4 separate regions of the Homo sapiens genome follow, and all the other regions are linked to region 1. The links come from fine-mapping of genetic effects on gene expression. A gene starts in region 1. Each other region holds a variant in brackets. All regions are shown on one strand. Distances are between the middles of the regions.

Region 1 (4,165 bases):
TTCTAGAATCCTCCAAATTTAATTTAATATCACATACTATACTGGGTTTACTCAAAACAGTGTCATTCTGGCTGGCGGCAGTGGCTCACGCCTATAATCCCAACACTTTCGAAGGCCAACGCAAGCGGATCACTTGAGGTCAAGAGTTCCAGGCCAGCCTGGCCAACATGGTGAAATCCCCGTCTCTACTAAAAATACAAAAATTAGCCAGCCGTGGTGGCGCACACTTGTAATCCCAGCTACTTGGGAGGCTGAGGTGGGAGGATTGCTAGAACCTGGCAGGCGGAGGTTGCAGTGAGCAGAGATCGCACTACTGCACTCCGGCCTGGGCGGGAGAGAGAGATTCTGTCTTAAAAAAAAAAAAAAAAAAAAAAAAAAAAAGTGTCATTCTGTAAGCTCTTCTAGCCTACCCAAGTCATAGGCCCTATAAAGGGAAGACTTTCTGCATGCCATCAATGTCTCCTGTCCTACTGAACAGCCCTGAATCTGAAAGGGGAAGGTCCCCACCACCTCTCCATGGACAAATCACAAACATTTCACATTGAAAAAAATAATAATAATCTCCTGTAATTCAACCCAGGCCTCTTATGGCATTACCATTCACATATGAGAAAGTTGAACCTTAACTAGAAAAGTATATGGTTTTGGGGTTTTGTTTTGTTTTGTTTTGTTTGTTTGGGTTGTGGAAAAATAGATGTCAGAATCAAGATACTACAACAGTAAGAATTTAGGCCTGGGTCTGGAAAGGACATTTGAACATCAATATGTAATAGCAGTCCATGTCCAAAACTCACAAGTGAGATTATCAAATTCCAGGGGAGTCTATTAATGTGGCCAAAAAATCTACCCCATAATTTTGACATAAGTTTTCCAGTCCAAAATACAACCTACAGTATCATCTTATGGGTCCGGAAATGCCATACATCAAGCAAAATTACTACCGGAGAAATAACACTGTAATCATTTGCGGAGCAGTCTGACCAGGGTTCCCTCAGTTACGCCAACCGCCCCCAATCATCCTACCCACCTAAGTACTACCAGGTCAGGGGGATGCCCTGCTGCACGATCGGGCGGTCACTCCTCCTTTCCACAAGGCCCAGGCCCGCACCGTTCGCCCCGGGGCTCCCATGGCCCCTGACCTCCAGTATCCGGCAACGATGGACCGCCACAGACCCGGCAGGGGGCGAAGGGCGCACACCCACCTCCCGGGAGTTCGTGGGAATAACTCCGGGCGCTCCGAGGGTACGTCCCACACCCAGAGCCGCACGGGCCCATCCCCGCCAGGTCTGGGAAGGCAGCCCGAGCCCGGGACCCCGCCTCCCCCGCATCTAGGGTCCGGGCCGAGCTCGGCCGCCGAGCTCCCATTCCCACTCCCACACCCAGCGCCTCCCCCTGGCGGCGACAGCCGCCGGGGACGCCCCTCCCCGGGCCCCGCACGCAGTCCCCAGCCCTCCCAGGGCGCTGCCTCCTCAGAGGGTGACAGCCGCCTGGCCAGGGCCGGGGCCGAGGCCGGCCCCTCCTCCAGCTCTTCCTCACCCGCCGAGGAGACGGAGGACGGGGATGGGGTTCTTACCGGGCAGCAGGACATGGCGAGGCCCTCCACGGCACAGTCTCCCCCTCCGCCACCCCACCAGGCTCCCTGCCAGGGCCGGCGCTGGGCAGCGCCTGAGCCGCTGGGACGTCTCGTCCGGCTGCTACTCCGCCGCCGCCGCCGCCTTCTCACAACCACAACAACATGGCGGCAGCGGCCACACAGAGCGCGCTCCCGACGCCGAGCCGGGCGACGAGCGAGGACGCGCGCGCACGCTCGGGCGCTGAGCCCGGTGTCCGGGAAAGGGGGCGGGTCTCCGCCGGTTGGACGGGGGCGGGGCCTGGACAGGTGGTCACGCCCCAGGAGATGGGCGGGGCTGCAGCTGGGGAGAGGCTCGCGAAAAAGCCCAGCGGAGCAAGAATGGCTAGACAGATGGGAAATGGGTGGAGGAAAAGAGATGACAAAAAAAAATCTGGAAGAAAACCAAAGGTGGTCCTACAGATTTTTAGGAGGCGTCTTTTCCAAGCTCTGTAACCCTGGGCAAGACATGGCTCACTCTACTTACCAGAAAAATAGAACAATAGTGGTATCTTCCACCTGCAATTGTGGTCAGGATAAAACCAGTTTAATATAATGCAAGTAAATATAGTGTTTTAGAAGTTGTATTCAGAATACAATTTCTTTTCTTTTCTTTTCTTTTTTTTTTTTTTTTTTTTTTTTTTGAGACAGAGTCTGGCTCTGTCGCCCAGGCTGGAGTGCAGTGGCATCTCGGCTCACTGCAACCTCTGCCTCCCGGGCTCAAGCGATCCTCACACCTCAGCCTCCTGAGTAGCTGAGACTACAGACTCACAACATCATGCCCGGCTAAATTTTGTATTTTTTGTAGAGATGAGGTTTCTGCCATTTTGTCCAGGCTGATCTCAAACTCCTGGGCTGAAGCAATCCACCCACCTCGGCCTCCCAAAGCGCTGGGATTACAGGCATGAACCACCGCATCCGGTCCAGAATACAATTTCAAACTGATTCAACTTCAGCTCCTAATCAAAAGCTCAGCGGGAAGAAGTGAGTTTTCAAACAAAGTAAAAAACAACTCCCCCAAAAAATTGTAACCTACCCACACTAGCCTGCAGAATTCCACAAACCAGGATTGCATTACCGTAGGCCCTAACAGATTCACCTCCTCTGAGTTGCCTTTTAACATTCTACCCTTGACTTTTCTGGAAACTGGGAGAACTAGTCAAATGAAATCTATTCCTGCGTCTGTTGTAAAGTTTTTCCACAGCACTTTCTGAAATTTATTTTCAATGTTTACTGTCATTTTACTCCACTAAAATGTAAAAGCTACTTGAAGATAAGGATCTTGTCTTGTTCGTCACTGTTTCCCCAGCACCTAGAACTGTGCAGGTTAAGTAGTAGGCAGTCGAATTTCTTGATTAACTAACAGCTGGCTGGGCGCGGGGGCTCACGCCTGTAATCCCAGCACTTTGGGAGGCCAAGGTGAGTGGATCACCTGAACTCAGGTGTTCGATACCAGCCTGGCCAACTTGGTGAAACCCCGGATCTACTAAAAATACAAAAGTTAGCTGGGCATGGTGGCGGGCGCCTGTAATCCCAGCTACTTGGGAGGCTGAGGCAGGAGAATAACTTGAACCCGGGAGGCGGAGGTTGCAGTGAGCTGAGACTGCGCCACCGCACTCCAGCCTGGGCGACAGAGCAAGACTCCGTCTCAAAAAAACGAAACTAAACTAACAGCTAACATTTATTCATACAACTCATCTAATTGAATCTTCACAACTTTAATAGGTAGATGCCATTATCTCCATATTACAGATGAAGAAAGTGAAGCACAGAATAAATTGCGTGTATTAAAACAAAATTCAAACCCAGCAGACAAAAAAAAAAAAAAAATACTGTGCTGTCTTACCCACCAGGCTGTACTGCCCAGTGCATGGACACAGTAGCCTGAAATAAAATCTCAAGTAAGAAATTACTTTAGGCCGGGCGCAGTGGCTCATGCCTGAAATCCCAGCACTTTAGGAGGCCGAGGCAGGTGGATTGCTTGAGCTCAGGAGTTCGAGACCAGCCTAGGCAACATGGCGAAATCCCATCTCTACAAAAAATACCAAAAAACTGGCCAGGCGTGGTGGTGCACGCCTGTAGTCCCAGCTATTTGAGAGGCTGAGGTGGGAGAATGGCTTGAGCCTGGGAGGCAGAGGTTGCAGTGAGCCCTGATTGTGCCACTGCACTCCAATCTGGGTGTCAGAGAGAGAAAAAAGAAAGAACGAAATAAATTACTTTAGAGTTAAAAGCTTGGAAAGCCCTTGCTTTACTACCAGAAAAACCGGTGTGCTTCCTGCTTTTTGATAACTGTTACGCATCTGATTGTGTCTCTCTTTTCACTCTGGCTTCCAGAAAGCCCAGGGCTAAATGTGAAGCTCAGCAATGACCTCTTCTTGGCCCTTGAGGGTCCACTCCTGCCTCAACTTTGCACCTGTATTTATATGTGGCTGCCCTGATTTTCCCTTTCTGTTCTATGACTGACTATAGGCTTAATGGAATGGGAGAAGAAACAGTAAATACTAAAATTGATGAATGATTTAAAGTTTTTTTATTTTATTTTATTTTATTTTATTT
Region 2 (4,165 bases), 25 kb after region 1:
GAGGGAGGGAAAGGTGAGCCTGAAATCACTTAGAAAAGAAAATAAATGAATTAGATCCATAAATTTGGTTGAAGGCAAGAAGGATTTTATGATGGAAAGAATAGCATGTTTAAACTGTCTGATTTTTAAATGAAGAATAGGAAGGATAAGATTTTTTTAACTTCATATTTTGAAAAAACTGTAGACTCACGAGAAGTTGCAAAATAGTACAGAGAAGTTCTGTGTACCTATCATCCAACTTCCCCCAATGGTAACATCTTACGTAACTATAGTGCATTACCAAAGTCAGGAAATTAATTGGCAATTAACAAGACTACAGACTTACTCAGATTACACTAGTTTAGGAAGCATAATATATGTTTACAATTTTATTTTACACATAAAGTACACAAATCTTAAGTGTACAGCCTGACATAGTTTTATATATGTAAACACTCATGTAACCAACATCTCTATCAAGATATAGAATGTTATCAGCCCCCAATGTTACCAACTCCCTCGTGTTCCCTATAATCAATAACTGCCTTCCCACATAACCACTTTTTTTTTTTTGAGACAGGGTCTCACTCTGTCACCCAGACTGAAGTGCAGTGGTGTGATCACAGCTCACTGCAGCCTTGACCTCCTGGGTTTAAGTGAACCTCCCACCTCAGCCTCCCAAGTAGCTGGGACTACAGGCATGTGCCACCATGCCCAGCTAATTTTTTTGTACTTTTTATAGAGATGGGGGGGTCTCATCATGTCGCCTAGGCTGGCCTCGAACTCTCAGACTCAAGCTATCTGCCTGCCTCGGCCTCCCAAAGTGCTGGGATTATAGGCATGAGCCACCTCGCCTGGCCCACTATTCTTTTATTGCTGTAGATTAGTTTGTCTTATTTTGAACTTTATATAAATGGAACCGTACAGTATATTCTCTTTTATTTTTGATATATATATATATCTGTGTCTGTGTGTGTGTGTATATGTATATATATGCATATATATCTTTTTATCGCTCTATCGCCCAGGCTGGAGTGCAATGACTCAATCATAGCTCATTGCAACCTCAAACTTCTGGGTTCAGGTGATCCTCCTGCCTCAGCCTCCTGGGTAGCTGGGACTACAGGCATGTGCCACTTTGTCTAGCTAATTAAAATATTTTTTAGGCCGGGCACGTTGGCTCATGCCTGTAATCCCAACACTTTGGGAAGCTGAGGTGGGCGGATCACGAGGTCAAGAGATTGAGACCATCCTAGCCAACATGGTGAAACCCCGTCTCTACTAAAAATAAAAAAAACTCTCCCTCTCCCTCTCCCTCTCCCTCTCCCTCCCTCTCCCTCTCTTTCCACGGTCTCCCTCTCCCTCTCCCTCTCTTTCCACGGTCTCCCTCTCATGCCGAGCCTTCTCCCTCTCCCTCTCCCTCTCCCTCCCTCTCCCTCTCTTTCCATGGTCTCCCTCTCCCTCTCCCTCTCCCTCTCCCTCTCTTTCCACGGTCTCCCTCTCATGCCGAGCCGAAGCTGGACTGTGCTGCTGCCATCTCGGCTCACTGCAACCTCCCTGCCTGATTCTCCTGCCTCAGCCTGCCGAGTGCCTGCAATTGCAGGCGCGCGCCGCCACGCCTGACGGGTTTTCGTATTTTTTTGGTGGAGAGGGGGTTTCGCTGTGTTGGCCGGGCTGGTCTCCAGCTCCTAACCGCGAGTGATCCGCCAGCCTCGGCCTCCCGAGGTGCCGGGATTGCAGACGGAGTCTCGTTCACTCAGTGCTCAATGGTGCCCAGGCTGGAGTGCAGTGGCGTGATCTTGGCTACAACCTCCACCTCCCAGCCGCCTGCCTTGGCTCCCCAAAGTGCCGAGATTGCAGCCTCTGCCCGGCCGCTACCCCGTCTGGGAAGTGAGGAGCGTCTCTGCCTGGCCGCCCATCGTCTGGGATGTGAGGAGCCCCTCTGCCTGGCTGCCCAGTCTGGAAAGTGAGGAGCGTCTCTGCCCGGCCGCCATCCCACCTAGGAAGTGAGGAGCGCCTCTTCCCGGCCACCATCCCATCTAGGAAGTGAGGAGCGTCTCTGCCCGGCCGCCCATCGTCTGAGATGTGGGGAGCGCCTCTGCCCCACCGCCCCGTCTGGGAGGTGAGGAGCGTCTCTGCCCGGCCGCCCCGTCTGAGAAGTGAGGAGACCCTCCGCCTGGCAACCGCCCCATCTGAGAAGTGAGGAGCCCCTCCGCCCGGCTGCCATCCCGTCTGGGAAGTGAGGAGCGTCTCCGCCC[G/A]GCAGCCACCCCATCCGGAAGGGAGGTGGGGGTCAGCCCCCGCCAGGCCAGCCGCCCCGTCCGGGAGGGAGGTGGGGGGTCAGCCCCCGACCCGGCCAGCCACCCCTTCCGGGAGGTGAGGGGCGCCTCTGCCCGGCCGCCCCTACTGGGAAGTGAGGAGCCCCTCTGCCCGGCCAGCCACCCCGTCCGGGAGGGAGGTGGGGGAGTCAGCCCCCCGCCCGGCCAGCCGCCCCGTCCGGGAGGGAGGTGGGGAAGTCAGCCCCCCGCCCGGCCAGCCGCCCCGTCCGGGAGGGAGGTGGGGGAGTCAGCCCCCCGCCCGGCCAGCCGCCCTGTCCGGGAGATGAGGGGCGCCTCTGCCCGGCCGCCCCTACTGGGAAGTGAGGAGCCCCTCTGCCCGGCCACCACCCCGTCTGGGAGGTGTACCCAACAGCTCATTGAGAACGGGCCATGATGACAATGGCGGTTTTGTGGAATAGAAAGGGGGGAAAGGTGGGGAAAAGATTGAGAAATCGGATGGTTGCCGTGTCTGTGTAGAAAGAAGTAGACATGGGAGACTTTTCATTTTGTTCTGTACTAAGAAAAATTCTTCTGCCTTGGGGAAAAAAAATAAAAATAAAAATAAAAATAAAAATAAAAATATTAGCTGGGCGTGGTGGCGTGCGCCTGTAGTCCCAGCTACTCGGGAGGCTGAGGCAGGAGAATCACTTGAACCCAGGAGGCGGAGGTTGCAGTGAGCTGAGATCGCGCCACTGCACTCCAGCTTGGGCAACAGAGCGAGACTGTCTCAAAAAAAAAAAGTAAGAGGGTAGAAAGAACATATGCTGCCACTTGGGAAAATATATGGCTGGAGGAAAATAAACAATGCTTATATTGTTAGATTGTTGCATATTTATTTTCTTTCCATTTTTAATAATACAGTCTTTTTAAATTTGTGGTTATGTGAGTCTAAAATATTTGTGTATGTAAGTATATATTTGATGTATTAACATAATAATATTAACATACCATATTAACATACCGTAACACATGAACTAATTATTTTTCCATTTTTTATTTTTTTAGAGATGGGGTCTCACTATGTTGCCCAGGCTGGAGTGCAATTGCTGTTCACAGGTGTGATCATAGTACACTGCAGCCTCAAACTCCTGGCCTCAAGATGTCCTCCCATCTTGGTCTACCAAGCAGCTGGAATTATAGACGTGGCTTTCACTTTTATATATAATATAAAACCTGAGATTTCATTAACTCCCAATGTACCCTCAATTCAAATTATTAGACACTTTGAAGCCAGCTAATATTTATTCAACAAATACTGAGCACCTTCTCTGTGCCAGACACAAGCCTTGGCCCTGAGGACATGATTGGTGAACTAGACATAGTACTTGAATGTCTAGGAATTTATCACCTGCTGCGAGGGACAAACACATCAATAGACGAGTACAAGGCAATGTGCTAAGGTTTATTTTAGGCAACTTGGGAACTTACAGGAGGAACCTTACTCAGTTTGAGAAAGTCAGAAGGGCTTCCTAGAGGACATGGCACTCAGCTGAGACCTGAAAGATGATTCTAAGTATACCAGGTACAAGGGGAACAGGAGTAGGAAGAACATCTCCTGCAGTGGGACCAGCTGGGATACAGGCATGGGAGCTAGAGGGGTGAGATGGTCATGGAGTCACAGTTGACTCAACGGTGGGTGTTTATGGGACAAGATAAGATACAGTTGAAGAGGTTTAAATGCCCCACACAGTTCCTTGAACTGCCATGGAGAACCATTACAAAATATCAATCTGGGGCTCGTCAGTAACCATTCTATTTTGTTCCAAATTGCCCAGATATGCCTAACCATAAACTGAGATATTGACAAATATGTATAAACTGGGCTGTTTTCATGCCCTGCTGGCACTGCTGATTTTCTGTTACGGAGCTAA
Region 3 (4,165 bases), 88 kb before region 1:
GTCAGGAGTTCGAGACCAGCCTGGCCAACATGGCGAAACCCCGTCTCTACTGAAAATACAAAAATTAGCTAAGCATGGTGGCAGGTGCCTGTAATTCTAGCTACTTGAGAGGCCGAGGCACAAGAATCGCTTGAACCCAGTAGGTGGAGGTTGCAGTGAGCCGAGATCGCACCACTGCACTCCAGCCTGGGCAACAGAGCAAGACTCTGTCTCAAGAAAAAAGAAAACGGAATACAACCATGGGTTCTGGTGGTAGAGTTATAAATGAGAATTTGTAAAAACTTGTAACAATGCTACTTTATGAGAAACTAAACAAAAACAAAAGATACATACATGGCCATGCTACTCCCCAACTAGTACACACAGAATCAACTCCCAAGCGTTGTCTAAAGCATCAGGCCAGGGAAAACACCAGGAAGACTTTCTGCTAGGCACCATGGAGAACCCAGCAGCACCAGGAAGAGGACCACACTGTTACTAGCCGTGTGGTATACAATGAAGGACAAACCCTCAATACAGAACAGAGCTGCTTTCATAAGCCCATCATTTGTTATTCATTAGCACTGGCTGAAATACTAGACAAGCACTTTTTCAATTCATTGAAAACTCTGTGGGAAAACCAATAAAATAAAATATAATCAAGAAAATAACAGGAAAAGTTCATCAATGTTTAGGTATAAGATAAATCATAAAGTTGTAATGCCCACAAACTAAGAAAAAATTGGCATGCCTTTAAGATAAGGGCAGTTACCTTTCTCTTCCTTTTAATATGACATTTCTGCACAACTAGTTTTTTTGTTTTACTTTTTCTAATTTTGAAAAGCATTTTCCATACGTCCCTAATGAAGCTTGAAATTAATGTAGCCTTTTCAATTCCTTCTCTGTGCATCAGCATAAAACAGTTTGGATCTAGGAAACATCACAAGGTAGAAGAAGGACAATATTACAGAGGACCATTTCTTTTTTAAGCCTTGAAGCACTGTTTACATTTCCTCAGGATTGATGAAAATGTGGCTGGCTTGTTGCTCCATCTTCTCTGCTTGAGCTGGGCCCGAAATGGCCCGTAAGTCATTAAATTGTCCATTAAATTCTCTTTCTGGTTAAAGATACAGGAGGGGGTGTGCAGGGCTGCTCCACCTACTATGGGATCAAAATACTGCCTTAAAGAGACAAAACAGGGAAGGTAGGGAATTGCTTCTATAAATTCATAAAGCATATATACTATGTGAAGTAATACATATGTTAATCAGCTTGATTTAGCCATTCCACAAGGTATATATGTATTTCAAAACATTATGCTGTACACAATATATATGTAATTTGTCAATTTAAAAAAATTTTTAAGTAAATATGCAGATTACCATCTTACAATTTGTCTACACACAAACACACACACACAGTTTTCACTACACGCTACTTCCTAGAAAAGGAATTAAAAACCTGGAGTCCGAGAACTGTATGTTTTAGTCTTGATTCCATTTACTTGCTGACTGAAAAATAAGAGACAACATCTAGCTCACAGGATTAAAGTTAACAGAAATGAAACTGCTCTGTATATTGGAGTACTCTATTACTACTAAGTAAACAAGAAAAGAAAAGACACAAGAGATCTGGGAAAGAAAAAGAAATAATTTCTTACAAAAACAAAAATGGGTAAGTATGAATTTATTAGTGTTCACTTAATTGTCAGGACACAGGGTTTTTTGTTTTTTTTTTTACTCTTATTTCCTTGTACTTACCATGACAAGAGGCCCAGATTAGGAGGAGAAATCCCCG[T/A]CCCTTCTTCAGTGTCCAACAAGGCTCTCTTCTTTCCCTTATGGTGAAGTCTGGGGGTGGGGGGGAAGAGGGGGAAGAAGAAAAAAAAAAGAGGAGGGGAGGCAAAATTGGCAATAGTTTTTCCCCTAATCGGCCATATCCTCACAAAGGTATTGTATATACACAGGCCTAAGAAGCTGATCAGAGTCAGCCAAGAAAAAGTTGATTATCACCCAGCCAATTCCCACTAGTCAAATCCCAATTTGACAGTTCCTTTGTAAAACTCCTGTTAGTCTTAACCTGTTTCTGCAAAAACAGTATCAAAGGCTAACATTCCTAATGTTCGTAGTAAAACAAAAAATATCATAAAACTTGGATGAATAAAGCAACAATTAAAATCAACCTACAGGCCAGGCAAGGTGGCTTAATGCCTATAATCCCAGCACTTTCGAAGGCTGAGGCAGATAGCCTGAGCTCAGAAGTTTGAGACCAGCCTGGGCAACAGAGTGAAACTCTGTCTCAAAAAAAAAAAAAAAAAAAAAAAAAAAAGCTGGTCATGGCAGCACATGCCTGTAGTCCCAGTTACTCAGGAGGATGAGGTGGGAGGATCAACTGAGCCTGGAAGGTTGGGGCTGTAGTATGCTGTGATTACACCACTGCACTCTAGTCTGGGCAACAGAGCAAGACTCTGTCTCAAAAAAATAAATAACATCAACCTGCAAATGCAAAATCATTATTCTTGTAGTATTTTAGGATGTTTTTGTGGTTATCTCTAAATTCAAAATGGATCCCCCATCTGAGGAAACCAAACTGACTTACGAGCAAAATAGGAAAAATAAATTTGCCTTATTACCCAAATATTCTATGCTCTTCTAAAAACTTACAATCTGTACTAATACCTTTACCTGGTTTTATAAGAACAAAAAAGGGGGAAAGAATATCCAACTAGAAACCCAAAAATAGGCTTATACAAAGAGTAAGTAAGTTGCTCTTTTCTTTGAACAGTCTCATGCAAAACCAACATTTCTAGTTTGCTAAGCTTCTGTAACACAGGATATTTCAGGGAGTCTGGGCTTCAATGTGCAGCATAAAACTCTTTTAAGGGCAATGTAAGCAAGGGAACAAGAGAACATAAAAGCAGTAGCAAGGCCCAGATTGTGTTGAGGCATTTTGAGCAGAGGAATGGTAGGAGATGACTTACTCTAAAGAATCATTTTGGCCGGGTGTGGTGGCTCACGCCTGTAATCCCAGCATTCTGGGAGGCCAAGGCAGGCAGATCACGAGGTCAGGAGTTCGAGACCAGCCTGGCCAACATAGTGAAACCCCATCTCTACTAAAAATACAAAAAATTAGCAGGGCATGGGGGTGTGTGCCTGTAGTCCCAGCTACTCGGGAGGCTAAGACAGGAGAATAACGTGAACCTGGGAGGCAGAGGTTGCAGTGAGCCGAGATCACGCCATTGCACATCCAGCCCAGGTGACAGTGTGAGACTCAGTCTCAAAAAAAAACCAAAAAAACAAAAAAAAGAATCATTTTGGCTGTTGGGTAGAGAACAGTCAAGGCTACTGGGGGTAAGGGGCAAAAGAAGACCAATTAGAAAGCGTCATTAACCCCAGCAAGAGACAATATAGCAATGAAAAGGTAGTAGAGATAGAAGTGGTGGGATGTTACTGATTCTGGATATACTTTGAAAATACTGCCCATAGGATTTGAGTGGATTAATTAAATAGGATAGAAAAAGAGAAGTCAAGCTTTTTGTGTCAGCAACCGGAAGCAAGGATTTTCTATTTATTGATGAAGAGCATTGTAAGAAAAATCTATTCTTCTCGTGCCATGCAGAGACAGCTCAACGGACAAGGAACAAGAAATTAAAGTTTCCATTTTAGACACATTATGTTTGAAAACCTATCACATATCCAAACAAAGATGCCAAGTAAAGTGCTAGTTAAACCAGACTAGAGATCAAGAAGATGGAGCCTAGAGATATAAACATAAATGTGGGAGACATCAGTGTGTGAATGGCATTAAAGCCAAATGCAGGAGCAAGTATAAATGGAGAGGCTAAGATGACTAAGGACAGGGGTTTTGGGTGCACCATTTTTTAGAGGCTGGAAGGATGAGGAAGAACCTTATGGTTCAGTAACAGACCAAGTTGGAGTCATCATTCTTAACCACTCTTCAAACCAAGCCAAACTTTTGTGATTTGGCCTAGCTCAAGAACTGAAACTAATGTAAAATTATCTCATTTATTCATTCTTTTCAATAAATATTTATTCAATATTTTCTACACTCCATGCACTGTTGTAGACTTTGGGGACACCACTGTGAACAGAAATTCATGGAACTTGATTTTATTGTTGGTCTTTCTCATTAGAAACAAAGAAACAGATAACTAATGTTAAGCAGTAGG
Region 4 (4,165 bases), 150 kb before region 1:
CGCCTGTAATCCTAGCACTTTGGGAGGCTGAGGCGGGCATTTCACCTGACGTCAGGAGTTCAACCAGCCTGGCCAACATGGTGAAACCCTATCTCTACAAAAATACAAAAATTAGCTGGGCATGATGGTGGGTGCCTGTAATTCCAGCTACTCAAGAGGCTGAGGCGGGAGAATCACTTGAATCTGGGAAGCGGAGGTTGCAGCGAGTCGAGATCGCGCCACTGCACTCCAGCCTGGGTAACAAAGTGAGACTCTGTCTCAAAATAAATAAAACTAAAACACATATATGAACTTTAGTTTGTCTTCTTCAGCTAGTGATTCATTTGTAACTTAGTGCAAAACTCAGATTGGAATGCTTCAAAGTCAAATGTTTTCCCCTGTAAGGTGGAAGCGAGAGCAGGGTCTAGTTTCAACACACAGTGGAATAGAAGTGCTGCCTGGCTCTGATTGATTGTTCCAAATGCCTGCTAGAAGCCAGAGACAGAAATGCTATCATCTATCTATCTCATTTCATGGGACAGTGGGGAGGACAGCATTTGCTAGGCCCCCACCTTCCCACTCCATTTATATGCCATGTGCTCTGCTACAGATGAGGAAATGTCTCCGAGTTCCTCATACACCCATGAGCAACTCAGCTGGTGCTGCAGGGCTAGGATCCCACCCCAGGTCTGTGGGCTCTAAAACACAGGGGCTTTCCACCAAACTGGTGATTTTCAAACCAACTTTTGTGGCACTGCCTCAGGAGAATTTGTCCTGATATTAATAAATAATGTCCTGATAAATATTAATAACCGTCTTTTAAACTATATACACCCAAAGGTTTAAAACACATTCAGTGAGGCTGCTTGAGACTTCACTGTACAGTCTGTATTGCTGTGTGTGTGTGTGTGGCCTTTGCAGGGGTCACTGACTGGGAGGGCACCAGCTTAGTGCTGTGATCATTAGGCCCAGGGCCAACTCAGACCTGGTGGCCCTGAGCATAAAGTAATTTTAGTGCTTATAAATCTTTGGGTGTCTCTCATCTGATATATGGATGATAAAGACTGAAAGCAGGTTTTGGATATTCTTCTATTAATCCCTTTTTTCAGGCATGTACTTCAGTTTTGTCAACAAGAGATTGCAGGCAAGCTGTGACTACTACCATTTGCAACCGCTTACCTATAAAACTCAAATTTTTTAAAATTAAACTCCCCCATATTATATAACAACTAAAACAAAATCCAGAAATTGGATGCTGGGACAGTTCACAGTGAACCTATCATCTGCACTAATGAAAAATGCTCCCTCCCCAAGCCCACTGATTTTAAGATGTTATGACTTAAACTGTGATGATTCATGCTAATAACATATCATTTGTTTTTATGTATTTGAAAAGTTAAAAACAAAAACACTGGATTAGACTATCACAACATTTTGATTTTGGTTAAGAGGGAGAGAAGGGCTCATAATTCAAGCCTTGTGATGGCAATTGCCTAAGCTCCTCGCTGAGATTTCAACGAGAACCAATACAGCTATTTACATCAGGCTTTCTGGAGGCCCAAGAGCACAAGAAGAGGGTTAGGAGTCGGGAAAGTATTTTCCTTTTTTTATGGGACAGGGTCTCCCTCTGTTGCCCAGGCTGGAGTGCAGTGGCGTGATCATGGCTCACCACAGCCTGAAACTCCTAGGCTCAAGAGATCCTCCCACCTTAGGCTCCCAAGTAGCTGGGACTACAGGTGTGCACCACCATTCCTGACTAGTTTATTCATATTTTTTGTAGAGACAGGTTTATTTATATTTTTCGTAGAGATGGGTCTCAACATATTGCCCAGGCTGGTCTTGAACTCTTGGGCTCAAGTGATCCTCCCACCTCGGCCTCCCAAAGTGCTGGGATTACAGGCATGAACCACTGTGCCTGGCCAAGAATGACTTTTATTCAAATTTTGCTGTTAACTCATTGGTAATCTGGATGTCTTTGGCCCTCTCTGAGTCTCAGTTTCCTCAATGAAAAAGGAGGAGATTGGATTAGTGATTTTCAGACTTTTTATTTTAAGAAACAAACAAAACCTTTCTTCATACCAGATCTTACTTTTAAATCTAATAAAGCTTTGAATGGGCCTGGAGGCTCCCTCTCCACGAGGCCCCAGAGAACAGTATGAAAACCGTGGAAGTAGGTGACCTAAGGTCCCTTCCGCCTCTAAACATCAGGAATCCATGAACCCTGCCTCTGGAAGATAAATAGTGACCCCCCCCCCGCCCCCTCCTCGCTGAGAGCCCCTCTCTCCTAAGAGGCTGAGCTGATTCATACCCTGCACCTACGACACTGGATTATAGCACTGGCAGGAGAACCACAGTGACAACCCAAATCCAGGGGCTCAACAACTGTTTGTGGGTGAAAATGACAGATTTATTCAACTTAAATGGTCACCGAGGCTACAGCAGAACCAATGCTGTTACAATAGGCAAGCACTACTGTCAGCAGCAACATACCATTTATTTCTTCAACAGCATCTGAGCCTCATGGGTTATGTTTTCATTAAAAAAAAA[AATCTT/T]ATAAGCTAGTTGGGAAGCTGTTAAAGGCCAATTTTAAATGGCAATGTAAAACAAATTTCACTGAAAATACAATTCAAATACAACTGCTATGAGCACTGTAAGAAAAACTGACTAGTTACTCAGATATAATAGAAAAGACCTTAAATGGTAAATAAAACAATAGCAGCATTTAAAAACCTGGTAACTCCCATTTCAGAAGACGCCCTTCCCCTGCCCAGACCTTCATGCCTCTGAACACCTGCCTAGCCTAGGAGAGGCCTGTTCAAGCAGGGAGGCTACTGGTATCTGCACACAACATGCAGATGAGCTCTACACCAGCCGAGAGGAACAAGGCTTCAGTGCAGTTGTGTGCTGGGGACAGCAGGACTCGTGTTTAAGTGTCAGAGGCTTAGAGGGGTCAGCTCTGAACTAGAAGTCTCTCACATATCTGGTCCTGCCCTTGAGAAATCTTGTCAGTAATCTCAACTTAGAACAACTTTCTGGAAAATGTGACTAGAAATTAAACAGCTGGGACTCCTGCCACATTATCCAAAAGTCCAAATGGATAGTCACTTTGCTCCACAGCCCAGGGTCCACTTTAAATTCTGCTGTTAGCCCTCACCTACTGCAATCAGGTGGATACAGCTGCAGCCCTGGGGACAGGTCACTTGAACTGGCAGCAGCTAAATGAAATCCTGCAACAGCACCTTCAAATCAGCCCTCATTCCCAAAAGATCAATAGAGGTCAGGGCTAGAGTTAACTTCAACAGGCATGGGATCTCCCAGCCTCATGTGCAAGCAGGCAAGTATATCAGGATATGCCTTTAATTCTCATCTTGATGTTTTTTAATAGCCAGAGATTGTTTAACAGGTCCTCCAGCACCTTCTGTTCATTCTCCTTTAGATCTACCACAGTAACATTCTAATTCATAGAATATTCTTTGCTAACATGAAAAGAGTTAGCATATAAGCAAAATTATTACAGGAAAACTTTTCTGTACATCCTCATAGAGAATCTCAGTGGATTAAGGCAGCTGTAACTTGTTTTGGACTGCAGTTACAGAGGCCAAGGTATAGAAGAAAGGTAACGAGAGTGCCAGGATAGGAAAGTTCTGAGATGAAGACAACCTGGCAGCTCAAAGTCACAGTTCATGCCCTGTTGCTTCAGACCAAATTCCCTCTACAGCCTGAAGCAAGCTGGCCTTGCCCACAGAGAACTGCCTTTCTCCATATGCAGCCACCTCCCTCAGGGCAATTCCTTGCCTTGGATCCTCACTGCACCTGCTTCACCAGCATCTTGGCTCTTCATCTCCCTACCCCCAGAGAAGCTTTCCATTTAGGAGCTCGCAACGCCCTTCCTAGGCCATGCCAGTGTTTTAATTTGCTGGAGACTAGCCCACAGGAACAATAGTGGCTGTGTGTAGACACGATGGCCATGGCACACACTCATGGTTTTCACAACTTCATATGAATACACAGACTGGGCTGCCTGGCGGACTGAGGGTAGCTGAGATGGCACATTCTCCTTCCACAGAAGAATGATTTCTTGTTTTCAAACGCCTGCTGGGTGGCACTTACGGCTTTCACACTAGAACCAGCTCAGCTGGCTCTTTGTGTTTGTATACTTTAGGTAGAAGGTACATTCAGAAAGTGA

Alleles and levels. Positions count from the first base shown, and alleles are read on the strand shown. Sizes are in standard deviations (SD) of each study's normalised expression. Not every link is listed here.
For the expression in monocytes after interferon gamma of the gene that starts at base 1,759 in region 1, allele AATCTT in region 4 goes with a lower level than allele T (moderate effect, 0.42 SD a copy in Fairfax 2014).

The links. PIP is the estimated chance that this variant, and not a neighbour inherited with it, causes the effect.
Region 2: its variant is the best candidate, but not a certain one, in a credible set for the expression of MTMR3 in lung (TOPMed, PIP 0.85).
Region 3: its variant is the best candidate, but not a certain one, in a credible set for the expression of MTMR3 in whole blood (TOPMed, PIP 0.85).
Region 4: its variant is the best candidate, but not a certain one, in a credible set for the expression of MTMR3 in monocytes after interferon gamma (Fairfax 2014, PIP 0.75).

Annotation. Positions count from the first base shown.
Region 1 is chr22:29,880,768-29,884,932 of GRCh38, reverse strand. It overlaps MTMR3 (myotubularin related protein 3), which reads right to left and starts at 1,759. Exons shown (of 20, transcript NM_021090.4): 1 at 1,574-1,759. RefSeq lists silencers at 1,217-1,716, 1,777-1,946 and an enhancer at 1,659-1,953.
Region 2 is chr22:29,856,259-29,860,423 of GRCh38, reverse strand. No RefSeq gene overlaps it. Among named protein-coding and RNA genes, the nearest start is that of ASCC2, 20 kb to the right of the region's middle. The variant G/A (reference allele first, on the strand shown) is at 2,238.
Region 3 is chr22:29,968,637-29,972,801 of GRCh38, reverse strand. MTMR3 (myotubularin related protein 3) reads right to left here. Exons shown (of 20, transcript NM_021090.4): 3 at 1,740-1,826. The coding sequence starts at 1,742. Among named protein-coding and RNA genes, the nearest start is that of MIR6818, 36 kb to the left of the region's middle. The variant T/A (reference allele first, on the strand shown) is at 1,777.
Region 4 is chr22:30,028,708-30,032,872 of GRCh38, reverse strand. MTMR3 (myotubularin related protein 3) reads right to left here. Exons shown (of 20, transcript NM_021090.4): 20 at 2,005-4,165. All of the region lies in intron 3 of HORMAD2-AS1 (HORMAD2 and MTMR3 antisense RNA 1), which reads left to right. Among named protein-coding and RNA genes, the nearest start is that of MIR6818, 24 kb to the right of the region's middle. The variant AATCTT/T (reference allele first, on the strand shown) is at 2,527.